Linked DNA regions of Homo sapiens. The protein of the gene in region 1 purifies or fractionates together with the protein of each later gene. This does not show direct contact. Each region holds a gene or a part of one and is shown in the gene's direction. Other genes may lie near its edges.

Evidence for each region.
Region 2: the proteins of GNAQ (region 1) and PI4K2B fractionate together in Homo sapiens (co-fractionation; one large-scale study listed by BioGRID). This does not show direct contact.
Region 3: the proteins of GNAQ (region 1) and ZDHHC9 fractionate together in Homo sapiens (co-fractionation; one large-scale study listed by BioGRID). This does not show direct contact.
Region 4: the proteins of GNAQ (region 1) and AGTR1 purify together in Homo sapiens (co-immunoprecipitation; one study listed by IntAct). This does not show direct contact.
Region 5: the proteins of GNAQ (region 1) and TMEM248 fractionate together in Homo sapiens (co-fractionation; one large-scale study listed by BioGRID). This does not show direct contact.
Region 6: the proteins of GNAQ (region 1) and CXCR5 purify together in Homo sapiens (co-immunoprecipitation; one study listed by IntAct). This does not show direct contact.
Region 7: the proteins of GNAQ (region 1) and TMEM184C fractionate together in Homo sapiens (co-fractionation; one large-scale study listed by BioGRID). This does not show direct contact.

Annotation. Positions count from the first base shown.
Region 1 is NC_000009.12:77,724,117-77,728,129, reverse strand, and holds part of GNAQ (guanine nucleotide-binding protein G(q) subunit alpha), read left to right. Parts: intron 1-4,013.
Region 2 is NC_000004.12:25,271,719-25,275,731, forward strand, and holds part of PI4K2B (phosphatidylinositol 4-kinase type 2-beta), read left to right. Parts: intron 1-4,013. UniProt on the Homo sapiens protein: Together with PI4K2A and the type III PI4Ks (PIK4CA and PIK4CB) it contributes to the overall PI4-kinase activity of the cell. This contribution may be especially significant in plasma membrane, endosomal and Golgi compartments.
Region 3 is NC_000023.11:129,833,506-129,837,518, reverse strand, and holds part of ZDHHC9 (palmitoyltransferase ZDHHC9), read left to right. Parts: intron 1-4,013. UniProt on the Homo sapiens protein: Palmitoyltransferase that catalyzes the addition of palmitate onto various protein substrates, such as ADRB2, GSDMD, HRAS, NRAS and CGAS. The ZDHHC9-GOLGA7 complex is a palmitoyltransferase specific for HRAS and NRAS.
Region 4 is NC_000003.12:148,735,671-148,739,683, forward strand, and holds part of AGTR1 (type-1 angiotensin II receptor), read left to right. Parts: intron 1-4,013. UniProt on the Homo sapiens protein: Receptor for angiotensin II, a vasoconstricting peptide, which acts as a key regulator of blood pressure and sodium retention by the kidney.
Region 5 is NC_000007.14:66,927,606-66,931,618, forward strand, and holds part of TMEM248 (transmembrane protein 248), read left to right. Parts: intron 1-154; exon of another isoform or gene 155-172; intron 173-3,009; exon of another isoform or gene 3,010-3,257; coding exon of another isoform or gene 3,258-3,263; intron 3,264-4,013.
Region 6 is NC_000011.10:118,882,540-118,887,037, forward strand, and holds the start of CXCR5 (C-X-C chemokine receptor type 5), read left to right. Parts: upstream 1-1,352; 5' UTR 1,353-1,402; coding exon 1,403-1,453; intron 1,454-3,587; exon of another isoform or gene 3,588-4,498. UniProt on the Homo sapiens protein: Cytokine receptor that binds to B-lymphocyte chemoattractant (BLC). Involved in B-cell migration into B-cell follicles of spleen and Peyer patches but not into those of mesenteric or peripheral lymph nodes.
Region 7 is NC_000004.12:147,630,384-147,634,396, forward strand, and holds part of TMEM184C (transmembrane protein 184C), read left to right. Parts: intron 1-1,009; coding exon 1,010-1,122; intron 1,123-2,489; coding exon of another isoform or gene 2,490-2,490; exon of another isoform or gene 2,491-2,519; coding exon 2,520-2,619; intron 2,620-3,381; coding exon 3,382-3,553; intron 3,554-3,785; coding exon 3,786-4,013. UniProt on the Homo sapiens protein: Possible tumor suppressor which may play a role in cell growth.

The DNA of each region.
Region 1 (4,013 bases):
CCAGCTTCTCGGGAGGCTGAGGCAGGAGAATTGCTTGAACCCGGGAGGCGGAGGTTGCAGTGAGCCAAGATCGCGCCACTGCACTCCAGCCTGGCAACAGAGCAAGACTCTGTCTAAAAAAAAAAGAAAAGAAACTCATCTGCTTTGAAATAGCAGATCAGAAAAAGGAACAATCCAGTAGTTTTGACCAATTGTGTATTAACTCTTATAGTCCCCTCTGTGTCTCCCTTTCATTTGGTTACCGTCCACCTCTGCCTCTCCTCTCTCTGGGGAGGAACACAATTTTGAAGTTAAGAGCCCACCACTGAAATCAGTCTATCAAGGTTGAGATCCCAGTTCTGACACTTCCTATTTGTAGAACTACCATCAAGTCACTTGATTTTTCTGGGCCTTACGACCAAACTCATAGGATTGTTTTGTGCACTGTAGTATATAACATATGTGTACGTTTAGCATGATGCCTGACACGTAGGACACTTATGAATACTCAGGAAATACTTCCTTTTTTGAAACTTCATAGCCCAATGAAGTCCCACCACCATTACTAATAGTAACCCAGTGTTAAGCTCTTTGTGCAGCACTTAGAATCTATAGCATCCACTTCACTACTCCTATGGCTCTGCATTATTTGCTTTGTTCTTAGAAAAGGATCTTACCCTCCCCAACTAGACTGTGAAATCCTGGACAACTAGACACCCAACCCATTCTGAGAAACACTTGAACACTTGGTGATTGGTAACAAAATGCATCCACATGTAGCCACTATGTAAAACAAGTGAGAGTCACGACTGCTGCCCTATAAGAGTCTATGTGGCCAGGTGTGGTGATTCACACCTGTAATCCCAGCACTTTGGGAGACTGAGGTGAGAGGATCACTTGAGCACAGGAGTTCAAGCCCAGCCTGGGCAATGTAACGAGACCTCTATCTATAAAAAATGAGGCAGGAGTTGGCAAGAGGTCAAGACTGCAATGAGCCATGATCCTGCCACTATACTCCTGCCTGGGTGATGGGAGACCCTGTCTCAAAAAAAAAAAAAAAAAAGTTTATTTATTTGGCAAGATAATCACATCTCTCCCTTATGGCCCACCACCTGGTTTTATGAATAAAGTTTTATTGAGACATAGCCACACCCATTCATTATACACTGTCTATGGCTGCTTTCACACCATAACAGCAGAATTGGATAATTGTGACAGAGATAGAATTGTTTGCAAAGCCTCAATTACTCTGTGGCCCTTTACAGAGAAAGTTTGCCAAGCCGTGGTCTAGATAGTTAAGAGCACAAGCTCTGAAAAGTTCCACTTTGCCACTCACTGTCTGTGTTGCCTCAGACAAATTTATTTAGCTACTCAGTTTATCCCTGGGCAAGAAAGAATTGAATGGAATCATACATATATCACATAGCAGAAACCCAAAAGTATCTACCATAGAGGTGATATAACAACAAGAGAAGAGACTATTTTTAAAATTACATTGTCAACATATGATATCCAGGATGGATATCATTCCACAGTGTTTTTGTACTTACTAAAAGCTTCCTCAGAAAAGTAATTACTTTAAAAACCAAGATTAAATTTAGCTTCATAGCTTTCTATGATGATACAAACACATCAGGGATGGAGGTTTAGTCATCTTTTCATCCCACATGGAATGTGGTACAGTCCTGGCTCATGAAAGGGAAATGTTACATGTTAAATGAATTGAAGTTCCCTTCTCAAATACATGTAAGATCCTGAAGGTTGGTGAATTGAAAATATAAACATTTGTGGATGTCACCAGATGTTAGAAATGGTACCTTTTGTTAGCATTGTGTTCATATCCTCTCTTCAAGTACATTTTCCTTTGTGCTTTGCTGTTCTTTGAAAAACACTTTCTCAGTCTAAACAGTGTTTTCTCTTTCACTCCTTTTAATTTGCACTAGCCCGGAAACAAATCATCAATGCCTGAGACTGCACTTCTCAGTGTTGCTCAGAAAACTATGGAAGGAAGTGACTGTGTGGGTAGTTAACTTGCTTTCCCACCTCAAGCTTCAAACACATCTACCTGAATACAGTAGGCATGAAACATCTGGCTTAGATCTAAACACGCTTGCCTGCCACACACACACACACACTCGAGGTTCTTCTTAATTTTTCTTGGAACTTGGTAAGAATCAGCGTGTGAGAAATTGCCACACCATACACAACACCCCATCTTGTGGGCTGGCACGTTTTCATGATGTGCTTGCATAAGGGAGGATGCAGAACAGATAGAGCATGGTGCCCACGGAGGTGAACCCTTCTGAGGGGTTCATTCAAACTTCTCAGATGCAGCATACCTAGCCACACTTCACAGTTGCTGATTTTTCCGCAATAAAAGACTTAGTTTGTGATCAGTGCTTGCAGTGCTGTTTTTTGATCTCTGCACCATCTTCCTAATCTCTTCACGTACCTCCTTTCTCCAATAATTTCCCCAGATTCCCCACCACTACAAGCATTTTCCTTCCAGCATGTGCCCATTGTGAATATTCTGAAATCTGAAGACTTTTTTTTTTTTTTTTTTTTTTTTTTACTGTTACCTTACCCCAGTATACATATAATGCACAGAGGAAACTTGGCCACAGAAAAAGAAAAAAGACATTGATTTTGTTATTACAAAGCCAGCGCAGCAGTCATTACGTGAAACTCCAAGCCCTTGTAAGATGAGCAAACACTGAAAAAATTGAGGCCCACTCTGCAGTGATGTTTTTGTAATAAGCATGTTTATAGTATTATAAATTTCACACTTCCACATTTCTATACTTACAAGGTCTTAATCATAATGAATGCCATTTCTGTATTTCTCTTCAAGAAAGGAAATTACCCTTTCCACATGGACTTGAATTGCAAGATTGTTCATAGAGACTGTGGAATTCTGCTCCTGCTGTGATGGCTGTAATGAGTTCTTTGTAGTGTATGTTTATTCAGATAACAATTTATGCTTAAAAACATAACACTTTTCAAGTACACTTCAGTGAACTTGGATCTAGTTCTTATATTCTGTAGGGTAAATAAAAAAGAAAAAAAAAAGGTATAGTCCCTTCCTTCCCAAATAGAGTAAGTACAAAATCATACAGAAGTTCATTCAGAAGCCAGAAATATAATGTTCTTTTTATGAAATGAGAGACTTCTCCAGCTCTGGTAATCTGTTACTTTCTGGTTTTGAATAGTTTTTATTACTTCTCTGGAGTTAATAGTACATTGAAAAAGATGGAACATTAATTATATATATATTTGCTTGTATATATACTTTACATATTGTTTTTAATTGTACTTTTTATCTATTAAATATGATGCCAGCCCTCTTAGTCATTAAAAAAATTGAATTCTGGGCACCTACATCAAAAATTCAACATTACTTTTTTAAATTGTACAAATGAGGATAGTCTATTTGTTTTTATAATTCTTTCCTCCCATCTTCTGGCATTATCAGATATAAGTTTATTGGAGTAATCTCCAATTTATAAAAAGGTTGGTTTGAGAATAATTCAAGTCAGCTGTCTGAAGCTCAGGGTGCATTTTGTTAGAAATGGTGGTCAAGCCCTCAATAGAGTTCTGCAAGATCTCTTTATCCCTACTAGTAGGTAACAAGAATATTGATGATAGAAAAAAACCTGCTGGGTGTGGTGGCTCACGCCTGTAATCTCAGCACTTTGGGAGGCCAAGGTGGGCGGATCCCTTGAGGCCAGGAGTTGAAGACCAGCCTGGTCAACATGGCAAAACCCTGTCTCTTCTCTTCTAAAAATACAAAAATTAGCTGGGCATGGTGGTGCACGCCTGTAGTCCCAGCTACCCACGAGGCTGAGGCAGGAGATTTCGCTTGAACCCAGGAGGTGGAGGTTGCAGTGAGCCAAGATCATGGCACTGCACTCCAGCCTGGGCAACACAGTGAAACTCTGTCTCAAGGAAAAAAAAAAGTTTCTTATTGCTTGGTATAGAACTAACTTGAAAAAATAGGAGGAAATGCATATATAAAGCAACACAAAGACAGATAT
Region 2 (4,013 bases), on another chromosome or scaffold:
TTTCTTATCCCTAAAGGTTTATTTTTATTTTAGGAATCTGATTTAAAATAAAGAAGTAAATAAAAGCTGTTAAATAATTTTGTCAGCTTTAATTGTGGTTTAAAGTTAACACCTGAGGAATTTAAATTTTTAAAAAATACCTGTCTGAGTGCAGTGGCTCATGCTTGTAATCCCACCATTTTGAGAGGCAGAGGAGGGCAGATTGCTTGAGCTCAGGAGTTCAAGATCAGCCTGGGCAAATGGCGAAACCCCATCTCTACAAAAAAATACAAAAATTAGCCACGCATGGTGGCATGTGTTTGTAGTTCCAGCTGCCAGGAGCCTGAGGCAGGAGGATCACTTGAGCCCCAGAGGTGGGGGAGACTGCAGTGAGCTGAGATTGCGCCACTGCACTCCAGCCTGGGCAGCAGAGCAAGACCTTGTCTTAAAAAAAAAAAAGCCTGTCTAAGAAGGTGTGGGAGTGTTCCAGTTCTGAGGCCTGTTACAAAGATGTGTCTGTGGCTGTCTCCTATTTTAGGTTTATTTACTCATATCTTATCTCATGTACAAAAGAAAAAGGCATTATAAAAATGAATATAATAAAATATGAAGATGACAGGGTCAACAACTTAGGAGAGAAAGAAATAAAATGATGATACTTTGGTTATTATACGTTGTCACTTGATTTTGTTTTGTTTTTTAATTTTAATTTGATTTTGAGCTTTCCGATAGCCAAAAAAGATAATATGTCCTGACCATGTACATGACTATGTAGCTCTCTGGTTTTGGCTGTTTTTACTTTTTAAAAAAAAGTTGGTCTAAGGCCAGGTGTGGTGGCTCATGGCTGTTGTCCCAGCTACTTGGGAGGCTGAGGCAGGAGGATTGTTTAAGCCCAAGAGTTCGAGGCTGTAGTACACTGTGATGACACCTGTGCATAGCCACTGCACTGCAGCCTTGGCAACAGACCAAGACCTCATCTCTTAAGAAGAAGGGAAAAAAAGATCTAAAAAATCAGGTATTGGGCCAGGCGTGTTGGCTCACACCTGTAATCCCAGTTTGGGAGGCCAAGGTGGGTGGATTGCTTGAGCCCAGGAGTTCAAGGTTGTAATGAGCTGTGATCACACCACTACACTCCAGCCTGGGCAACAGAGAAAGACCTTGTCTCTAAAAAAAAAAAAAAATTTACCTATATTCCAAACAACAGAATAATTACTTCAGCAAATTCCTCAAGTCAAAATACTTGTGTTATTTCTGTCAGTTATAAATATCATTTAAATCCCTCTCCCTTCCAATTTTGCTTATTAACTTAATGGTTTGTGCTTTCTACAGCCAAGTCTTTTGCCCTAGTTTGTAGTAAGCCGTTAGTTTTACACATATATCAATGGCGTGCTCTAATTCTTCACATAAAGATGTGGACTGAAACAATATGAAAGTTTTTTTTTTTTAATTCAGAGCTGGTAATAATGTTTATGAACGTTAAAGATAAACAATGTTTTGAATTTTATATTAAATAGCAATAGGTCATAATCAGGGTAGGTAAAATTCATCTTATATTCTAATTTGGAACACTGAAACTGAGAATATATTTACTTATAAGCAATGTGAAATATATTTTCCATGTGACCTGAAAAAATGCAGAAATAATAACTAAAACTTTTTCTGAAAACATAATGAACTTACCTTCAGAGATTTATATACCAGAAACTCATTTACAGATTCAATAATAATTGACATTAAAGAAAGTGAAACTAACCCTTTAGTACCTCCTGGTACTTGACCCCTTACTGGACACTTTAATGATGCTTATTATTGTTTATCCTCAAAACACCTCCACAGAGTAGTCTACGTTTTAGGTGGAATGACTTTGGCTCAAAGGGCTTTAATAACATGTATCTGTGAAATAAGGGCGCCTGCCAGCCTGGCCAATCGGCAACATTTAGGCATTGCCTCTGCCCGGGGCCCTTATCATCTCTCCTCTGGATTTACCGACATTCTAAGTTGACCTTCCCTCTTCTCCCATTCCTCTTCCACGCTGAAACAAGAACAATCTCTAAAAACAAATCTGAGTATGTCTTCTGTTATTTAAAATTCCTATAATTTGTCCATGTGTACAGGCTCAAGTCCAGGCTTTCAGCACAGTCGACAACACAGTCGGGCTCCAAACAGTGCATCTACCTTTATCTCTTGCCGTTTTGCCCCTCTCCCTGGGCTTGGCAAATCTGAACTGCTCTTCCTTCCCCTTTCCCAGTGGTGCTCTTGCGCACGCGATTCTTTCCCCTCGATGCCTTGCCCTCTGTATCTAGGAAACAGTTTTTCTTCCAACATCCACGTCAGTCTTCCTAAACTCCTCCTGTTCTGATTTTTGCAGCACTCCCTGGGAATATGCTGGTGTCACATTTTACTCAGAAATTTGGTTTTTAAATCAACATATGGGGTACATTGCTATAGAGAGATAGCTTAAAATCTACGAAAAAGTAGAATATATGTGGTTTGATGTATATAGTGCAGTAATTCTCAGGCCCACGGAAATTTAAAGACCAGCGAACTAATCTAAAGGAAAGCAAAGTCAGTATGTAGAAGCCCACAAGTTTATACCACCTGCCTGGACCACAGCTGTCACATCCCCGTCAAGCTGTCATTATGGCATGGGTGGAGAAGTCTAGTGTCTCCCCTGGCCTGCAGAATTTGCTCCATTCTATTTTTTTAAATAATCCACTCTGATTTAAACAGATAGTAATAGATTTGTTATTCTTTGAGAAATGAAAAACTAGGTGGTATGTTGGGGAGAGGGGATCAGATTTTAAAGTCAGGGCAGAGGTCCTTTCCATCACACACAAGTATTGCAATTACTTGTTCATGTGGCTGCTTCTAGAATTTGAGTTCTTTAAGGGCTTACATGGCTTTTCCCTCATTTGGTCCCCTCTTCTCCCCAACACCGTGAGTGCTCAGTAAGTGTTTCCTTAGTAAATAAATGCAGGATTATCAAGTGTCTTCTGAATTCCCGAAGAAATATTAATAGGTTAATTTCAGGATTTAATAATTTATGCAATTTCTGTAACTATTTGAAAATTAATAATTTGTAGAGCAACTTCCGTTTTCCTATACTTTTTTTTTTGGAGACAGAGTCTCCCTCTGTCACCCACGCTGGAATGCAGTGGCGCGATCTCAGCTCACTGCAACCTCTGCCACCCAGGTTCAAGCGATCCTTGTGCCCCAGCCTCCCTGATAGCTGGGATTACAGGCATGTGCCACCACACCCAGCTAATTTTTATTTTTTGTATTTTTGTGTAGAGATGGGGTTTCATCATGTTGGTCAGGCTGGTCTCAAACTCCTGGCCTCAAGTGATCCACCCGCCTTGGCCTCCCAAAGTGCTGGGATTACAGGCATGAGCCACCACACCTGGTCAACGTTTCTGTTTTCCATATTCTCTGCAAGAGTCACATACTGTTCTTAGAGTCAGGAAAATATTAACTGTTACTTAAATTGGTATATTTAGGCTAACATTTTTAGAATAGAATTCTTAAAACCCAAAGAGGAAACTAACCAAAACATTTCCTTCCTTAGCTGTGCTAGTGCACACTTTTATATTCATGGTAGGAACAATGCTTATAATAAACTCAAATTTCATAAATTCTTTTTTTCTTGTTATCCAAATGTAGTCAATTTAGGAAATTTTAAGGGAAGGCTGGGTGTGGTGGCTCATGCCTATAATCCCAGCACTTTGGGAGGCTGAGACAGGTGGATCTCTCGAGCCTAGGAGTTCAAGACCAGTCTGGGCAACAAAGCGAAACCCTGTCTCTCCACAAAGTACAAAAACTAGCTGAGGTGGCGTGTGCCTCTAGGCCCAGCTACTCTGGAGTCTGGGGTGGGAGGATCGCTTGAGCCCAGGAGGCAGAGGCTGCAGTGCACTGTGATTGCACTCTGCACTCCAGCCTGGGTGACAGAGCAAGACCCTGTCTCAAAAACAAAACAAAACAAAACAAAAAAAAAGAAAATGTTAAGGGAAGAACTTAAAAGTGATCCTAAAACATAA
Region 3 (4,013 bases), on another chromosome or scaffold:
CAATACAAACAATACTTTTCTAGCCTATCCAAATTCTACCCCTCTTTCAAATTCTTTCTTGAGTCTTTCTTCATGAAAACTTTCCAGTAATTTCTGCATTCATTGGGCTAATTGTACACACCGCTCATTCAACAGATAATCACATGACATTTCTTATAGTTTGGAGCTATATGGTGATTACACTTCTCACTGTTGTTGTCCCCCGCAGCTAGTCTCTTTCAAGGTCAGAGACTATGTTCAATGGCTGTGTAGCCCCCACAGTGCTCTCTACCATGCCTTACATAGAGTAGATGGCCAATAAGTGTTGCTGAATTAAAACATTCTAGATGTACTTAAAATTTAACAATCTTGACCCACAGAATCATAGGATGGTAGATCTGGAAAGGGCTTTGGAGACTATCTCCCTCCTTGTGTGGGGTGAGGAAACCAGGCCCACAGAAGTGAGTTTCCTTTATCAAGATGAGTTGACCAGCCAACGTCTCTATACTGACTCAGGGCTTTTTCTTCTAATTTCGACATTTTATCTCATTGTTCATTGTTACCCTTTGGCTATGGAATCCTGAAGATATTCAAACACACATGCTTTAGTAAAGTGTACATAGTACCAAATACTAGGCCAGCATATTCCAGATTCTTGCGAGCTAGTGTGTGTGTTACCCAGTGGCATCTAGGCTCTTTGGGTCTCCCAAGCTTATGCTCCTAGAAAATGAAGGCATCTTTGCAGAGAACTGATGGTATTGCAGCATGGCATTTCTGGTAGCCTTGCAGGAACAGGGAAGCCTATCAGGAGCTTTGTGAGTTAACAAGGGATCATCACTGCTGTGGCCACTCCTGGTCCCTGCTGCCAAGATGAGGATGGCTTGGAGAAAAATCAAGCAATGTGTGCTCTGTACATTGTTACTTAGTGACTTATCCTGATGAAAGGGGCAGTGTGGGCTGGGCGCAGTGGCTCATGCCTGTAATCCCAGCACTTTGGGATGCTGAGGCAGGTGGATCACTTGAGGTCAGGAGTTCGAGACCAGCCGGGCCAACATGGTGAAACCCTGTCTCTACTAAAAGTACAAAAAGTCAGCTGGGCTTGGTGGTGCACACCTGTATTCCCAGCTACTTGGGAGGCTGAGGCAGGAGAATCACTTGAACTTGGGAGGCGGAGGTTGCAGTGAGCCGAGATTGTGCCATTGCACTCCAGCCTGGGCAACAAAACAAGAACAAAACTCCATCTAAATAAATAAATAAATAAATAAAATAGAAAAAAGAAAGAGGAGGTGTGTCTGGCAGACAGGTGAAATAGAAAAAGCAGACCTGATAATATGAACTTACTAGGTTTGAGGAGACACAAGACTATGTAGACCAAAGCCAAACTTTGACATACCAGAATGTTAGTGCCCACAGTGACAAGGTCCAGGTTCCTGAAGAGCATCCTTATGTGAGATTGGGAAGAGGAAAAAGTGACTATATTGTGCTCTGTAACCAAGAGTGCATTCTCTGGGGAATGACTCTATGGAGGTCAGTCTTGGCTTTATCTAGCTTCGGATTCTGTCTGTGACTTGACTAACCAAATGAGTTTTAGAAAGGCATAGTTGCCTCTTTGGTATCAATCTGTTACAGTACTTAGCTAAACTTAACTTCCTGATGAAGTATGTTCCTTGAGAGAGAGTTCTTCCCAAGAGTTCCTTGGGTTGTATCTCCTGAACAGTTTGCTTTCTTTTTCTTTTCTTTTTCTTTTTTTTTCTTTGAGACGGAGTTTCATTCTTGTTGCCCAGGCTGGAGTGCAATGGCACAATCTCGGCTCACTGCAACCTCCGCCTCCCGGGTTCAAGCGATTCTCCTGCCTCAGCCTCCTGAGTAGCTGGGATTACAGGCATGCGCCACCACGCCTTGCTAATTTTGTATTTTTTAGTAGAGACAGAGTTTCTCCGTGTTGGCCAGGCTGGTCTCGAACTCCTGACTTCAGGTGATCCGCCCGCCTCTGCCTCCCAAAGTGCTGGGATTACAGGCGTGAGCTACTGCACCTGGCGGCAGTTTGCTTTCTTTTAATAATTCTTTTTTTTCCTCTTTTTTTTTTTTTTTTTGAGATAGGGTCTCCCTCTCTTGCCTAGGCTGGAGTGCAGTGGTGTGATCTTGGCTCACTGCATCCTCTGCCTCCTGGGCTTAAACAGTCCTCCCACCTCAGCCTCCCAAGTATCTGGGACTACAGGAGTGAGCCACTATGCCTGACTAAGTTTTGTATTTTTTGTAGAGACAGGATCTCACCATCTTGCCCAGGCTGGTCTTGAACTCCTGAGCTCAAGTGATCCAACAGCCTTGGCCTCCCAAAGTGCTGGGATTACAGGTGTAAGCCACCATGCCTGGCTCCTTTAATAATTCTTTATGGTTCTGTCATTCAGAATTTCTCTACATTTTCAGCCTCTATTTCCTTTTGTGGTAATGAGTTTCACATTTTCAGTCTCCACTGAATGCCTCTCCCATCTTTTGAGGATGAGTCTTAATTAAATATAGTGATCCTCTGTTTTGGGAAAAGCAAGCCCAGAGAACAGGGATGTTCCCCAACATGCTGACATCAGTTGAGATGTTATTGAGGGAAAGAAGAGACTCCTAAATCTTTCTCCTCAGAGATGCTGGTGCTGGTATTGTGCTTAAGAACAAAGGAGGTACCTTAGGCTATTTGCAGTAGCAAGAAGCTAGCTAATTCAGGGTAATTAATTAGTGGGATGTTTCTGGAATGGAGTGGGGAAGACAGGGCCCCTATGATGATGATTAGATAAGGCCAGTTAATGGAGAGCCTTGGAATACTGACCTGTGGAGTTTGGGGCATAATATAATAGGCAGCAGTGAATGGTTCTAAGTTCTCGAGCAGGGGTATATTGTAACTGAAATTTGAACTTTGTTATTATAACTGAAATTTGGAAACTACTGAGCGGGTTTACCTGGATAGAGATTTTGATGAGAGGATGGCTTCTCACTTCAGAATTGAAAGTGTCCCTGTTTGGTTAATTTTCTTTATTGCTACTGGAGCAAAAGAGGGTTGTGCATTTTTCTCTGACCTTCACATAGAAGTAAATCTGGAGGCTGATTGTAAATTATGTTTTTAGTGTTAAGGGAAACTTCCCCTCTCAGCAGACTCTGAGGGTCATCAGAAGAATCTTGAAACAGTCTTAATGGGTGGTTCTACATGTTTATTGTCTTCTAGAGGTAGTGTCTTAGTCTGTTCTGGCTGCTGTAAGAAACTACCATCGACTGGGTGGCTTATAAACAACAGAAATTTGTGTCTCATAGTTCTGGAGGCTGGCAAGTACAAGATCAAGATGCCTGCAGGTTTGGTGACTGATGAAGGCCTGCTTTCTGGTTCATAGATGGCTGTCTTCTCTCCCTTGCCAAAGGGGCAAGGGAGCTTGCCAGGATTTCTTTTATAAGGATGCTAATCCCATTCATGAGGGTGGAGCCTTAGGTGACCTAATCACCCCCCAAAGGCCCCACCTCCAAAATCCATCACATTGGATGTTAAGATTTCAACATATGAATTTTGCAGGGATACAGACATTCAGTAAGTAGCAGGTAGGTAGTAAGAGGACAGATGGCCATCCATATCAGGGAGGTATTATAGCAAAGGCTTATTTCTCCCATGTGTGACCAAAGAGTATCATGGGGCTCTGATCCTTGGGCCTTCTTCCTTAAAGCCATACTTACCAGCTGCTACTGGAGCAGTTTCAAGCAGCCAGCAGCTCCCCTACAGAGCTCTTCCCTGACCACTTACAGCCCTTAGAGGCTGAGTCACCATTCTAACACTTGATTATCGGTCATCTTATTCTTTAGCTGTTTCATATTTCAGTTATGTTTTCCCCAACAAAATTAACTCCTATTTCCCTTGTTCTTCATTTGTTAGTCCAACAAGTACTTGTTGGCTGACTGATTACATTGATAAAAGAACAAACAAACCAAAAAACATAGCAAGAAAGCTGTTAGGGAGACTTAGAAGCAGTGTATTGTACAGAACACCAATCCAAGCTGCCAAT
Region 4 (4,013 bases), on another chromosome or scaffold:
AAAAAGCCTAGAAATATTAGTGCCAATTTCTATGGGTCAATGATTTCACAAGTGAATAGCTAACAGTTATTTCCTGTGGCCTTACTTGGCAGAGAGAGGTGGGGGAAGCAACATAGGAGCAGAAACAGTTCCTTTCTAAGTCTGACTTATAAAATAGGAACAATAAAGACAACAGTTTATTGAACAGGATGGTTTATTGAGCTGTCCAGCACTATAAGCAAATGGCTTACAAACATTTTCCTACTCTTTTTGATGCTTGAGAGAGATACTTTGATAGAAGATTATTCCAAAATATAATTACTTGGTCATTTAGTTCTCTCTTTATTATCATAGGAAACTATGGGGAATTTTTTTTTCTTTAGATTGCAAACTAGTTTTAAAAAGAGCTTGTAATGAACAATTTAATTAGATTGGTTTTGGCTTGCCTAAAAGCTTAAGAAGGTATTAATATTCTAATCAAAAGTCTTGGGAAAGCATTCTTAGAATAAAAAAAGGAAAGAAAATCTTCATTCTTATGCTTTAAGAACCAGGAAAGCTGTCAAAGGATATAAGGTAACTCTTACAAAAGCAATTGTAAAATAAACGTGGTTTGGCCACAATGAGCCAACACCTATGTTTGCCACAGACTTAGATTCCCACCTCACTCATGGCAAATTTATTCAGCTGCTTAAGATTATTTTTTACTCATACTTCGAAAGAACAACAGCCTGGAATTTTTAGACTTTTAATGGCAATGGAAGGAACTTACCTATGATAAACATTTTTCTTTACTCTCACGCTTTCTTAACCCATGGCTGTTCTGAGTCAATGTTTGCCTTGCATTCAAAAAATAATAGTAAAGATTCAAGTAAAACATATTCATTAAGCACTATTTGAAAGATATACCAAGTGCTTTAACATTATCTCACTTTATTCCTACAAAGATCATGTGCAATAAATATCACTGTTCATGTTTCCTACAGATGAAAAAAAACTGAGGGTCATGTTCAGAGAAATTGGATGACTTACCCAGAGCCACACAGATTTGTACGTGGCAAAGGAGGATTCCATTTCAAGTCTTTCAACCCCAAATTCATCTTCCTTTCTCTAAGGGGAAATGGTGCTATGGAATTCATGTAAGCCACAGAGCTTGGATAAAAGGAATAGTAAGACCAAAAATAGGAAAAGTAGGAAGAGGTGGATCCTCCTATGTTTTTAATCAGGGTTCTATCTACCTGTAACTCTTCTGGGAAAAGAAGCAGGATGTGACTGAAACATAGCTGCTTTCTAGATCTCACAAATCTGGCTTTTCTAGTCAATCACATCTCTCTCTCCTTCGGCTTCTCACCAAACCAGCATCCGTTCAGCTTCAAAGAAAAAAGAGCCCTACTGTTTCCCACTCATTTATCATCAATCTAAAGTAACTGCCAATCACAAAAGTCCCATCTTTATTTCTTTCCTTAGAAACAAATTTCTCTAGGGAAGCTTATCAGTAGCAGAAGTGCAGACTGGGAAATGGCCTATGTCACCCTCCCATCTAGAAATGCCCAGTGCACATCCAGATCCCACACCCCCAAGAGCGTTGTGCAATATCTGTTAATTTATGAGAGCTGTTTCCCATAGATGATGCTGCAGGCATTAGTAAGGAGGGCAAAGTTCAAGTGATGACACCATCTCTACTCCACCTGGCTGGTTTCCAGGTGCCATCTCCTGATCCCTCTCCCCACCCCCACTGCCCTCTCACCATCCTTCCCCCAAACCCCACACTCCCCACCAATCTGGGTCAGTGATAAACACAGAGTATTCCACATGCCTCTGATATGATGTAACATTCGACACACTAAAGATAATACTGCCTTTAAGGCTCCTGTCCCCCTGGCTAGACTTAAACTGTGTAGAGGAGGAGAACTGTGACTTTATTCCCCTTGCATCCTGGACACCCACACATGGTAGGTGTTCAGTGAATATGTGATGAGTTGGTGAATACCCACTGAATGTGCTATTTGCATTGCTACTTCCTTGTGCTTCCTTCCACTGTTTCTATCGCCTAAAATTCTTCTCCCTTTTTCCTCCACCCTCGAGTAGGAAAAAATTTGTTTCTTTATTGGGCAGGGAGTTCTGGTCATTATACATTTATGTAAAATGTTCTTCTAATTGGCATATTCCATGCTATGTCCAGATTCTTTCAAGCGAATTCTCATTAAGGTAATAATACCTCACCGAAGTTTCCAGGGATGATCCCCTAGCTGTTCAAAGCTACCTTTTATATATTAAATACCAGTCAATATGAATCAATGGTAACTGAAAAAAAGGCTGATAGCTTGTGAAGGAGTTGGAGTACAAAACTATGCCTATAAATTGATCCTCACAAAGGCAGACTTTTTCCCACAGAAATTGTATTATGAATGCTAGTTATAGTTTGAGACTAGTTAATAAAATTCTACTCACTCCAAACATAGGATTAATGGAACCCACATGAGTTGTGTGCTGTCAAAGTCGAGTCAAGAGGAGAGAGAAGGAGAAGAAAATTTCCTCCCTGTTCTCATAGCTCAGGGCACCCAAGGGATTCTAGAGCGTAAAGTGTACTCCCTTCTATTTTTTACTGCCCTTATTCCCAAGCTGAACCAAATATTTACCTCTGCCCTCATTTTCAGTTATGGAGTTCACTCAGGCCCTTTTCAACCTTCGAGGTTCCTTAACCTTTACATTATTAATTCTTTTTCTAAGCAAAATCCAGCTGATCTCTACTAGATGGTTAAAAGGATAGTAAATAGGTAAATTAATCCACATTAAGCCACAAATGACTGCTAGCCCTAACCCTTTAATGACTAATTAATTTTTAATAAAGAATATGTGTCTATATAAATGAATTTATACTTCTAAGTTGGCATAAGTTCAGAAAAAATAGTAAGATGAACTGGAAAATCTACAAGGTATAGGGAAATCCTCTGGGTGAGGAAGAACTAGTCATACCTCCCTAAAAGCCTAGCCCTAGTTTCTGTTACATTATTTCTTCTTTTCATCTTCTGTTTTCTAAACCACAAGTTTCTAAAAGCACCAAGGAATTTTCTACCTGTTTATTTCGTTTTGTTTTTGTTTCTGTTTTTTTGTCCAAGGTGAGGCCCAAGTTGACACTGAGTATTCTCTGTGAAACTCTGCAAGGAGCAACATGTGATTTCACAGAAATTAGTCTCGATACACTATATTCATGGCTGTAAGTTCTATGCTGCTCACCCATTCATTTGTCCATTCAGTCACTCATTCATGAGACATTTATCATCTGCCTCCTGGAACATACCAGGGCCTACACCAGAAAACAAGGAAACAAGTAAACACTAGTAAACTTTAAACAGGCTCTCCCCACAAGCAACTGACAGACCAGTGGAGAAGACAGATATGTCAACAGATGATTACAATAAAGTTTCAAGGCCGGGTGCGGTGGCTCACGCCTGTAATTCCAACATTTTGGGAGGCCAAGGCGGGTGGATCACCCGAAGTCAGGAGTTCAAGAGCAGCCTGGCCAACATGGCAAAACCCCGTCTCTACTAAAAATAAAAAAATTAGCTGGGCATGATGGTACACACTGGTAGTCCCAGCTACTAGGGAAGCTGAGGCATGAGAATCACTTGAACCTGGGAGGTAGAGATCGCAGTGAGCCAAGATCGCACCACTGCACTCCAGCCTGGGCAATACAGTGACACTCTGTCTCAGAAAAAAAAAAAAAAAGTGTCAAACCTACATCCAAAATGTCAAAGTGCTCAAAAAAGTTGGGAAGGCTTCACCAAAGATGTGACATTTAGGGTAGATAACACCTGTTTGTGGATACTAATGTCCTGGTGAGTCAAAGAAGAAAAGGATGTACATTATATAAGCTGGATGCAAAAAGGAACAATAATGAGGACATGCAACCAAAAACTTACATAGGGAGAACAACTTTACTTACTCAGGGAAGGCAAAGAGACCACTTAAGAACTCCTTCACATGTGTTATGTCTTAAAAGCTGACTACTGGAGTTGTATCCCTTGCACAGCATC
Region 5 (4,013 bases), on another chromosome or scaffold:
TTTTTTAATTTGGGTTTTGTTTTTTTTTTTTTTTAGGGACGGGGTCTCACTGTGTTGTCCAGGCTGGTCTCGAACTCCTGTGCTCAAGTGATCCTCTGACCTTGGCCTCCCAAAGTGTTGGGATTACAGGCATGAAACACCATGCCCAGTCTCTCTTTGGTTCCTTTTAAACGTGAGTTATTGTGAAAGTCTGTTCTACACTGTGAATTGTATCACATTAAGAAACAAGACACTATTGGCAGAAGACTGTGCCAGTCTTTGCTTCATACTCTTAACTGATGAATGAGTGCTGAGATGGGAGGAATCCTGCTAAAGAAATGGAAAATAGGCTGAGCACGGTAGCTCACACCTGTAATCCCAGCACTTTGGGAAGCCAAGGCAGGTGGATCACCTGAGGTCAGGAATTCAAGACCAGCCTGACCAGCTTGGTGAAACCCTGTCTCTACTAAAAATACAAAAATTAGCTAGGCCTGCTGGTGGGCGCCTGTAATCCCATTTAGTCAGGAGTCTGAAGCAGGAGAATCACTCGAACCCAGGAAGCAGAGGTTGCAGTGAGCTGAGATTGTGCCATTGCACTCCAGCCTGGGTGATGAGAGTGAAACTCAGTCTTGAAAAAAAAAGAAACTAAGTTAAACATTTTAAACTTCAAAAAAGTTGATCTCTTACTTGTGTCTTTGTTAAAATCAGTGACTAAAATGCACTTTGTATATCTATGGCATGTGAGTTGTTTTTTTTTTTCACTTTGGCATTTGACTTGAAACTGTCTTATCAACCTTGGCATTGTGATTGATAGCATGGCTTTTGGGGTCAGATGAATTAAGTCAGAATCCATTTCTGCCATTTATTTGCAGCATGACCTAGTACAAATTACTTAAGCTCATTTGCTTCAGTTTTCTCATCTGTAAAGTGGGAATAGTAGTATCTATCTAGCAGTGTTGCAAGGATTAAAAAATATGTTAAGCGCTTGGCACGGTGCCTGGGAATGGCATGTTCTAAGTGGTAGCTGTTAAGAATGCTCTCTTCTCACTCCTTCGTCCTTGTCACCTGGTTTTTGCCTCTATCACCCTAGTGAAAGGGGTTTTGCTTACATCACTATTGATGTCTCGATTGCAAAATTATATGGATGCTTTTCTGCCTTTTCTCATTTGATGGGATTGACTCTTAAAAAAATTTTTTTTTTCCTTTTTATTTTCATTTTTTGAGATAGGGTTTAACTCTGTCTCCCAGGCTAGAGTGCAGTGGTGCCATCACAGCTCACTGTAGCCTCAAACTCCTGGGTTCCGGTGATCCCTCCACCTCAGCCTCCCAAGTAGCTGGGACTACAGGTGTGCACCACCACACCCAGCTAAATTTTGTATTCTTTGTAGACACAGGGTCTTCTTGTGTTTTCCAGGCTGGTCTCGAATTCCTGGGCTCAAGTGATCGGCTGGCCTCAGCCTCCCAGAGTGCTAGAATTATGGGCAGGAGCCATTGTGCCCTGCCAGATTGACTTCTTTATGCAAACCTATATCATTTATTGGACCGAAGTAGAACTTAATGGTTAATGCATGGGCTCTGGAGGCCAACTGGATTTGAATCCAGGTTCACTTCCCGTGTGATCATGGGCACATTAGCTGACTTCTATATGCCTTAATTTCCGTATCTGTAAAATAGAGATGTTTTAGGGATCATACACAATAGGTGCAAAACTCTTAGAGCAGTGCCTCTCTCAAAAAGTAGGCAATGACGGTAGACGTTATTATTGTTAAGCACCTTCCTGGTGTCAGGCACTGTCCAAGGTAGGAGGAATGCAGAAACAATATCATGGAAATGAGAGACAAATTTTTTTTTTTTTTTTTTTTTTTTTTTTGATACAGACTCTTGCTCTCGTGCCCAGGCTGGAGTTCAGTGGCTTGATTTTGGCTCACTGCAACCTCCGCCTCCCGGGTTCAAGCGATTCTCCTGTCTCAGCTTCCTGAGTAGCTGGCATTATAGGCGTGCACCGCCATGCCCAGCTAATTTTTGTATTTTTATTAGAGATGGGGTTTCATGTTGGCCAGGATGCTCTCAAACTCCTGGCCTCAGGTGATCCACCTGCCTCGGCCTCCCAAAATGCTGGCATTACATCTGTGAGCACCCGGCTCAGACAACAATTTAATTTGGCTGAGGGTGCAGGGAGGCAGTGTCAGTGGGGATGGAGTGAGAGCTGCCCTTGAGAGACACTTAAAATGTGGAAACGATAGGACTTGGTAACTGGTTGTAGGAGAGCCAGAGTGTCAAGGATGACTGGCAGGAGCTGGGCGCAGTGGCTCACGTCTGTAATCCCAGCATTTGGGAGGCTGACGCGGGAGGATCGCTTGAGCCCAGGAGTTTGAGACCAGCCTGGGCAACATGGCAAAATCCCATCTCTACAAAAAATACAAAAATTAGCCAGGAGTGGTAGCATGCACTTGTAGTCCCAGCTACTTGGGAGGCCAAGGTGGGAGGATCGCTTGCGCCCAGGAAGTCAAGGCGGCTGCCATGCTCATACCACTGCACTCTAGCCTGGGCACCAGAGCCAGACCCTGTCTCAAAAAAAAGAATGACTGGCAGGGATCACTAGGTAAATGACGGTGTTTTTCCTTAGGGAAGGAGCCAGTTTGGTGCCTTGGGATAAGTTTTGGCCTTGATGGCCTTTGGGTCATCTAAGGAGATAGCTCCAGTAGGTGACTGTTTGGATCTGGAGGTGAGTAGGTACATAAAATGGGATTAAGGCATGAATGAGCGTGTCCCCCTTGAGCAGAGGCCCCAGCTGGAACTTGGGAACACCAGCTTTTGAAGGATCCTGAGAAGGAAGGGGTGGCCAGATGAATGTTAAGAAAACCCGGAGTGGAAACTGGGAGAGGATCCACCCCACTTCTGTATCAGATGCTGCAGCAACATGAGTTAGGGACTGGAGCTCCAGCTTTGGACTTAGCAGCCCAGAGATTACTGGAGACCTTGAAGTTCTCCTGTGTCTTCGTTGCTTCTCACTTGTCTCTCTGAAGGTTCATTCTGCCTGCACTGCTTTGCGGTGGGGCAGGAAGATGGTTTCTGCGCAGTGCTTGGGGCAGCTGGGTGCTGGAGCTTGCACAGGGTTTCTTTGATACCAGTAAGTGTCTTCAGCTCTAAGTGTTGGATAATCTGGCATCGCATCGATGACTGTTGTTTACTAGGCTCAGGGTTTGTAACCCCGGCCTTAAAGCTCTTTGAGGGTCTCAGACATCACAGGATATTTGAGAAATGCTACTTTCTGCTACATGAAGGTGAGTTTCTGTCATTCTGTCTTAGCACAAGTCCGATGTATTTCCTTTGGTTGGCGTAGAGAGCAGGCTTGCTTCTCCCATCCTCTCTTCCTCAACTTTCAGAAACTTCCCATTTAACCTAAGGTAGAAAATCTCATTTAAGATGAATGGTGGGCCTGGTGTGGTGGTTTGTGCCTGGAATCCCAGCACTTTGGGAGGCTGAGGCAGGTGGATCACTTGAAGTCAGGAGTTTGAGACCAGCCTGGCCAACATGGTGAAACCCCATCTCTACTAAAAATATCAAAATTAGCCGGACGTGGTGATGTGCACCTGTAGTCTCAGCTATTTGGGAGGCTGAGGTAGGAGAATCGCTTGAACCTGGGAGGCAGAGGTTGAGCAGAGATCACACTGCTGCATGCCAGCCTGGGTGACAGTGCGAGACAATATCTCAAAAAAAAAAAAAAAAAAAAAAAAGAACAGTTTAAAACTACAATAAAGTTAGTTTAAAACTTGGACAAGTAGCCATGTGTACATATGCGGGCTTTGGAGAGAGGGAGAAACTGAAAGGCTTCCTGTGTCTGTGGCATAATGAATGTTAACTTACTTTTTTTCTGATAAAATGTTATTAAGTTGCAAAATTACATTTTTTTTTTCCACCATGTTGGCCAGGCTGGAGTGCAGTGGCATGATCATAGCTCACTATAGCTTTGACCTCCTGGGCTGAGCCAGTCCTCCCACCTCAGACTCCCAAGTAGCTGGGCCATTGGTGTA
Region 6 (4,498 bases), on another chromosome or scaffold:
AGGGCACTGGAAAGGGTAGTAGGATCCCAGCAAAGGGCGATTTGGCTGAAAGGGAGCGTGATAACAAGGGTGGGGGTGGGGCCAAGAAGCAGCCACCATGTGTGGGTGCCTCTGTGCGTGCAGTCATCTTTCTCACATCATTGTGGATCAAGAGAGGAAATGCCCACTTCTGGAAGAAAAAGCCACAAAATGAGACTTGGAAGGGAAATTGATCAACATCTACAAAACGGCTTCTTAAAGGAAGCGGCCCTCAGACAGGACAGAGTTGAGGGAAAGGACAGAGGTTATGAGTGCCTGCAAGAGTGGCAGCCTGGAGTAGAGAAAACACTAAAGGTGGAGTCAAAAGACCTGAGTTCAAGTCCCAGCTCTGCCACTGGTTAGCTGTGGGATCTCGGGTAAGTTGCTCTCCCTCTCGGCCTCACGGACCTCCTGAATAAAAATTGAGGGTTAGACTGGATGATCTCTGAAGCCATCTCTAGCTTGGTAGTTTATGAGGTTAATAATTTATGAGCAAACAAAGTTAATTTATAGATAGAACATCATTATTTTTGAGTCAGAAAATGACTCTGTAACTATGTGCTTTTCTTGGTGATTTCACTTTTTTTTTTTCTTTTAGAGACATGGTCTTGCTATGTTGCCCAGGCTGGTATCCAACTCCTGGCCTCAAGCCATCCTCCTGCCTCGGCCTTCCAAAGTTGATTTCATTTTTGTCTTCCAGTATTGTTTTACTGTTGTTCCCTTTGAAAAATTCTAACCTATCTTTTCTGAACTTGAGCTGAGAAGGGAAGGGGTTTTGCCTCTGTTGGGCAAAAGGATGGTGGCAAGTAGTGTGACCAAGTGCCCTAACTTGCCAGGACTTAGGGGTTTCCCAAGTCAAGGGACTTTTCAGTCCTTGGCAGACTGGAATGGTTGATCACCCTAGTGGTGAGGAAAATGAAGGTTTGGAGGTGGCTTGGAGGAGAGGTTGCTGGGAGAGCTCTTCTCCTGTTCTCTGTTGATCAGGAGTTTCCCTCATCAACCTGCTGACTTTGCGTGGTGGTTTCATTACAAGTTGTGAGCCCCTTATTGGGGGTATAGGGAGGAGAAGTGAGGGCAGCCTTTAAACTAGTCATAGGCCCCAGTTGAGACAATTATTGCCGGGAAAGAAGCTGAAATGCTTGACTAGCACTGATGCTGTGGGGGATTTTCCCTCTTTCTTCAAAAAAACAGAAAAGACCCAGTGGAAAAAAAAAAAAAAGTGATGAGTTGTGAGGCAGGTCGCGGCCCTACTGCCTCAGGAGACGATGCGCAGCTCATTTGCTTAAATTTGCAGCTGACGGCTGCCACCTCTCTAGAGGCACCTGGCGGGGAGCCTCTCAACATAAGACAGTGACCAGTCTGGTGACTCACAGCCGGCACAGCCATGAACTACCCGCTAACGCTGGAAATGGACCTCGAGAACCTGGAGGACCTGGTGAGTAGACACGGGTAGCTTCCTGTCGCCGAGGCCCTGTCTGGAATTCTAACATCCTTTGCCAGAGTCCGAGGGAGAGGGGACAGTGTGGGAATCCTCTCCCACTGTGGATCTGTAAAATCTAGACAGGTCAGTCAGCTCCCGCCCTTTAAGAGTTTATTTTCCATTCTGTGGAAGAAGCAGATAAGGAGAGCTGCTGTCCTTAGGAGACATCCTTTAGAGGAAGCTGGAAGACACGGGTTCAGGCCCTGCATCCTCCTCTGAGTTGCTATGTGACTGGGAACAGGATACTTCACCTCTCCATTCTTTCTCTCCTTTTCTCTTAGGGTCGGAATATGGAACTAGACAGGAAAGTACTTTGGAGGTTTTCTTACCGTAAGGAGGCTGGCATTGCTAATCAGTCAATGAATGCATAGCTGTTCGTCTCTGGCCATATGATTATGTCATCAGGGCACTACATTCTGTGTTGGGTGGAGAAGTTGAGGACCTGGTCTTTGCCCTCAAATAGCTTCTGCTCTGGCCAGAGAAAAAAATCACTCACTGGAAGCTATTAGGCAACAATTATGTGCTAAACTGAGGGAATGTGAGACCAGATGGTAGCAAGGAAGAGGATCCCAGCAGGCTGGAGTCAGGGAGCAGGGTGAGAAAACTGTTAATCTGACAAATGTCTTGGAACCTGTTGTAGAATCTCTAGAGATAAGGTATTCTTGGAAAGGTTTCTTGGGTGGGCTAAGAAAATGGTCTCCAGCACTACGCTGCCACCACTCAAGTCTCTCCAGTGAAGCGTAGTGGTGCAGTTGACTTGGTTGTCACTGGGCTCCCAGAAGATGTGTGTGTGTGTGGAGCAGCTCAACCAGAGAAACACAGGGTTCCTTGTGAGCCGACGGCAGAGGCTGGTTGTAAGGGTTTCTTGGAAACTTCTTCACTGTCTTTTCTCCCCCTGGAGAGAGGACTTGTTTCGGGGCTGCACTCTGGGTTAGATCATGAAGGAGCCAAACCCTGGCTCCTACCAACTCTCCTGTCCCAAACTTACCCTAAGATATTGTCTGACTCCCTCCTGCTCCCCCGGCTGGAGTGGACTTTGTGGAGTGGACTTTGTAGTTCCACCAACCATGTTCCCAGACTTGCTCAGAGAAGCCCGCCTCTCGCTTGCCCAGATCCCAAGGCTGGGAAGTGTAAGTAGGACACGGGGAGAAAGTGGGCAGAAGGGCTGACTACCCAAAGCCTGGCCCCTCGGATCCAAACCGTAGGTGGAATCAGAGCCGGACCATTCATCTAACCAGGACCTGCTACATAATTTGTGGGACCCAATGCAAAATGAAAACATGGGGCCCCTTGTTGAAAAATTATTATAAATAAGAAGGCAACAGCAGAGCACTAAACCTCGTGGGGGGTCCTGCTGGGTGCAGGCCCCCGTGTGACTGCCCCAGTTGCAAGCCCATGAAGCTGCCCTGAGTCTAATCACAGAGTCTGGGCAATACCCCAAATCAGACTAAAAACCCGCGGCCCCAAAGGGGCAATGTGCTCCCACCCTGGCCCCCGGTCACAGCCGCTGGCCTCGCCTGATTAGGTTACTGGGCGTCTTCCTCTGCCTGCAGCTTCAAACTGACCACGAGCCCTGACCCAGTTGGACATCTTAGTAACCAACTGGAGACCCGGCGGGTCCCAGCTTCTGAGAAACCTTAAGAGTTTCCCCTAACTGCACGCCTCACCTCACTGAGTGACCTACTAGGGACAGGTGGGGGCAGGGGGCAGGGGCAGCAGGGCATGTCCCAAGAAAACCTACATCTGGGGGAAAGGGACCCAGTGACTTTCTTCATGTCACACCTCAAATGAGTGATCCTCAGCCAGGCATTCCAATATCTGGATCCCTCACTCAGGGTCTAGCCAGGAGCCCAGGAGTCCTAGGACCATCTGGGCTCTGGAGCTCTTCAGCCAGCCACCAGTGCCTCGTTCCCCCTTCACGAATCTCCTACACACCCTGTCTCCAGGGCCAATGTCCCCTCAGAACACAGACCCTCTCCTCCGCCCCCACCCACTCACTGAAGGGCCGTGAGCAGCTTGGCAGACTGTCCCTCAGTGTCACAGTACAAAAACCTCGGGCGTAGTGGTACAGGCAGGAGAATCTTGCATGTAGCAGCTTCTCAATAAGTATTTATTGATTTGTGATGCAGTAAAGGTCTTAGCTCACCATTTTCCTCTGGAGTTAGTCTGGGTCCTTCTATTCCTTCTGCTTCCTATTCTCCTCCTTGTCCTTGCCCATACCAGGTATTGGTTCACATTCCTTGAACGCTGGGTTTTACACTCTCATGTTGAGCTAAGAACTGGGGCCTTTTGGTTACACAAACTTGCCAGAAAAAAAAAAAAAAAAGGAACTGGGGGCTCCTGGCCATAAGCCAGGTTCGTCATTCTGTATTCCATTTGTCCTCTTGAACTCGAAGACCAACTCGAGCCGCTTAAAATGTCCACTTCTTTAAGGCAGGGGCTGGGGGGTGGGGACGGGCTGCTAATTCTCATCAATGAAAGGTCCAAATAGAACAAAAATTAGATGGCTAAGAACCAGGAACAAGAAGATTCCAGGTCCTGGGGTGGGTATGCCAGGGACCCATCCTGCTGGAAAGGCCGATCCTGGCAGACCTAGAGCAGACCCTGTCTATGCGACCCTCGATCTGAGAGCCTCCTTCCAACAGAACCAGGGCCTGGGCTGGGGCATCCACAGAGGCTGGTCATAAACTATACCTCCAGCCCCACCCTGCACACCAGCCGGGAGGGGAAGCTGCTATAGCGCACGGTGAAGCTGGTCCAAGCCCCAGAGCCTGGCTTTCTATGACCCCTCTCCATAGACAATTACCACACATCATGACTTCAGTGTGACCAGAGCATCACAGGCGACACAGCCCGTCCACGTGGACCATCTCATTTCATCATGTAGGTGTGAAGAAGAGGAACCAAAACCAGCTCAGGCTGTTTCTGGGCTTCATCTAGGGGAAAGGGAGGTTCTCCACCCGCCCCCCGCAACCAGGTCAAAAGTCCCAGAGGAACCCC
Region 7 (4,013 bases), on another chromosome or scaffold:
ATCCTCTTTGGAACCAGTAATTCTGTTTCTGGGAATGTATTCTAAAGAAGTGTTCAAAAGTATGTTTGCCTAAAGTATCTTTGTATATAAAGCCCATTACTTGTAAATAACAAAAGGCTGAAAGCAATCCAAAACCCAATGTTAGGGACTAGTTGAATGCACTGTGGTCTTTCCATTGGCCAAAATATTAGGCAGTTACTAAAAATAAGCCTGATGAAACATATAGAAGTTATGTATTTTAAGTGGAAAAAACATTAGGCAATAAAATTTTATAATTAGTTCATGACAGTTATTTAAAAACTGGCTTATGTGTAAAAAGGATGATTGGACACCATGAATCACTTTATTCTTTCTTTCTTTACTGGTTTCATATTCTAAAATACTTTGAATTTGCATTTTATATGATTTTAATAGGGAATAGTGAACTTTCAGGAAAATGTTTATTGTTATTCAGCACTACACTAGGTTATTACAGATTTCTAAAAAGTTAGTAAGTCTTGTTCATTTTAAAAAATAAATCTAGCTGAACTAATACACCGCTCTCAGGAAAAATTGTTTGATTCTTTACATTCAGATTTCATAGTCACAATTTTATTGAAATTGTACTTGTTTAATGGGTTACTTTAGTTACATAGGATAGACTAGGTAATAAGCTAAAGCCTCATAAAATGAGTGGTCAGAAATTTATGTTTAAAAGCCGTTACAGATGGATTTTTTTATTTTGGCTGAACAAGAGCCATTTCTTCCATTTATGTCAATCATTTGTTTATTGTTCCCTTTATGGAACCCAGGAAGTGAACACTTAAAAACATTTTTACGGAAGATGTTGTATGTAGTATATATTCATCTATAGTAAACTATGAAAGCTTGTTAATCTAAAAATAGAATAATAAAGCCTAGAAAAGTTTGCCTGAAACATTACTCTGTACCAGGTCTCTGGTATGTAACTTTAATATTTCTATTACCATATCTATTACTGAACAAGTTTAAATGTTAATCTTGTTTCTAGTTTGCCATGTATTGTCTCCTGCTCTTTTATAAAGTACTAAAAGAAGAACTGAGCCCAATCCAACCTGTTGGCAAATTTCTTTGTGTAAAGCTGGTGGTTTTTGTTTCTTTTTGGTAAGTGTTACTTTTTTTTAAATGTTCTCATTTTTTTAAGGGCAGTAAAAACCGTTGATTAAGGAGGATTTTTAAACAGTCTTAATGCGGAAGATAGATTAAAATGTCTCTACTTCTCTTTTTAAAAGTTCATCTTTTTAGCCCTTCTACAATTTTCAAAAGAAATAATTAGATGGTCGCTGTAACATTTATATGAAGAAAATAGTTTGAGACAACCTAAATATGTCAATACTAGAATAATTATTAAAATAAATCATGGCCCTGTCATATAATAGAATACTATGGAGTTTGGAAGAAAGCATGATGTAGAATATTTAATTATATGGGAAAATAATCAGTAAATCTTTTTAAAACAGAAGGTAAAACTATACATAGTTCAATATAGTAAAGAGGGCCGGGCACAGTGGCTCACGCCTGTAATCCCAGCACTTTGGGAGGCCAAGACAGGTGGATCACCTGAGGTTGGGAGTTCCAGACTAGCCTGGCCAACATGGCTAGTCTCTACTAAAAATACAAAAATCAGCCAGGCATGGTAGCAGGCACCTGTAATCCAAGCTACTTGGCAGGGAAGGCAGGAGAATTACCTGAACCCAGAAGGCAGAGGTTGCGGTGAGCCAAAATCATGCCACTGCACTCCAGCCTGGGCACCAGAGTGAAACTCTGTCTCAAAAAAAAAAAAAAAAAGAATTTAGTAAAGAGGTGGGTAATAGGGGTCCTAGAAACAAATACACCAAATTTAACAAGCTAGAAACAATACAAAAAGGGAAAAAGAAAAATCCCTGAAATCCCACCACCCAGAAAAGAATGATTAACATCTTGGTAAACCTGTGTCACATATAAAACTCCAGAGAAAGTTTCATACTATAAAAATTTTTGGAATTCGACAATGTTCAGTAGTATATTGTAGATACAGTTCTTTGTCAGTAAACAGAAATATTATTTTGTTTTGTGGAGGGGGTGATTTTTATTTTTATTTTTATTTTGCTTAGTATTCTGTTATGTGGATATAACTTTTTACTAATCTCCTTTTGATATTCAGGTTGTTCCTAATTTTTTTACCATTATAAGAAACACTGAAGTGAATATTCTTATGTATACAACTATGAAAGCATGTCCATGTCATTATTTGCTGTTTAAATTTTACCTGGGGCCATTATCTCTAGATTTGCTTGAAATGCTCAGCTTGACTCCCTATCTTGAGACAAAACTACTAGAAAAATGAATTTGTAAAGCAAATTAATATATTTAACATAGAGTTTCTTCAGCAATATGCTGTAAAGGCAGGGTGGTGGTGGTACACAGGTTGCACTGGATTTTTTTTTAATGGCACATTTTTAAAACTACTGCTCATTTTATGCTTGATATAGATTTGGCGTTTACCTTTTCCTAACATATAGGCAAGCAGTAGTTATTGCTTTGTTGGTAAAAGTTGGCGTTATTTCTGAAAAGCATACGTGGGAATGGCAAACTGTAGAAGCTGTGGCCACCGGACTCCAGGTAAGTAGTGCCATCTCTGAATTCAATAGAACTTTACTATTTGTTAAGCATTTTTACATATCTCCACTAAACCTGACAACACACAGGGTATGGGGCTATTATCCTCACTTTACAGGTGAGAAAACAGGGGAACCCTAGAGAAATTGGCCATAATTACTAATTTGTAGCAGATCCATGAATAAAACCTGGATTTCATTATTCCTAAGTCCAATTCTCTTTCCACATTTCTCCTTGTAGTCCTTGGGTGGTGGAATGCAATATACTTGATGTGATTGAGAATGAAATGTACTTTGCTAAGAAATACTTGAGGCTGGCCTGGTGCAGTGACTCACGCCTGTAATCCTAGCACTTTGTAAGGCCAACGTTGGGGGATCACTGGACCAGGCATTCGAGATCAGCCTGGGCAACAAAGAGAGACCTCATCTCTACAAAAAACTAAAAAATAAAATACTTAGCCAGGCATGACAGCACATGCCTATACTCCTAGTTACTTGGGAGGCTGAAGTGGGAGGATTGCTTGAATGCAGGAGTTCAAGGCTGCTACTTGAGGAAGTGCAAAATAGATTCACATTTTGGCATTTTGTCTTTTTTTGAAGGGGTCAAAAATAATTATTTTAGAAAATGGAAAAATGAATATAATCTGAGAAGAAAAAACACAGCTGTTTATCTTAGCACTTTTGAAAAGCAAGTAGAGAAAGATAGCACTCTACAAACCTAGATTTAAATCCAAAGGTGGCTGTTATCTTATTGTTGTTCTCATAGGATTTTATTATCTGTATTGAGATGTTCCTCGCTGCCATTGCTCATCATTACACATTCTCATATAAACCATATGTCCAAGAAGCAGAAGAGGGCTCATGCTTTGATTCCTTTCTTGCCATGTGGGATGTCTCAGATATTAGAGATGATATTTCTGAACAAGTAAGGCATGTTGGTAAGTACCAGCTATTTAATTCAACCAAATAGGTTGGGTAGGATATTGAATTTCTCCTACTAGGGCAATTTATTATCTATTTAGAGATGAAAAAAGACTTTAAAGCAGTACCACAGTGCAGGCTCATCAACTTTGGGGAGTGGGAGAGGGGGAAGTGGGGAGCTTATTTTTAGAATGGTAAGTTTATAATGGTAAAAATAACTTTTGACTAACAGAAAACTTTATATTAAAGGACGGACAGTCAGGGGACATCCCAGGAAAAAATTGTTTCCCGAGGATCAAGATCAAAATGAACATACAAGTTTATTATCATCATCATCACAAGATGCAATTTCCATTGCTTCTTCTATGCCACCTTCACCCATGGGTCACTACCAAGGGTTTGGACACACTGTGACTCCCCAGACTACACCTACCACAGCTAAGATATCTGATGAAATCCTTAGTGATACTATAGGAG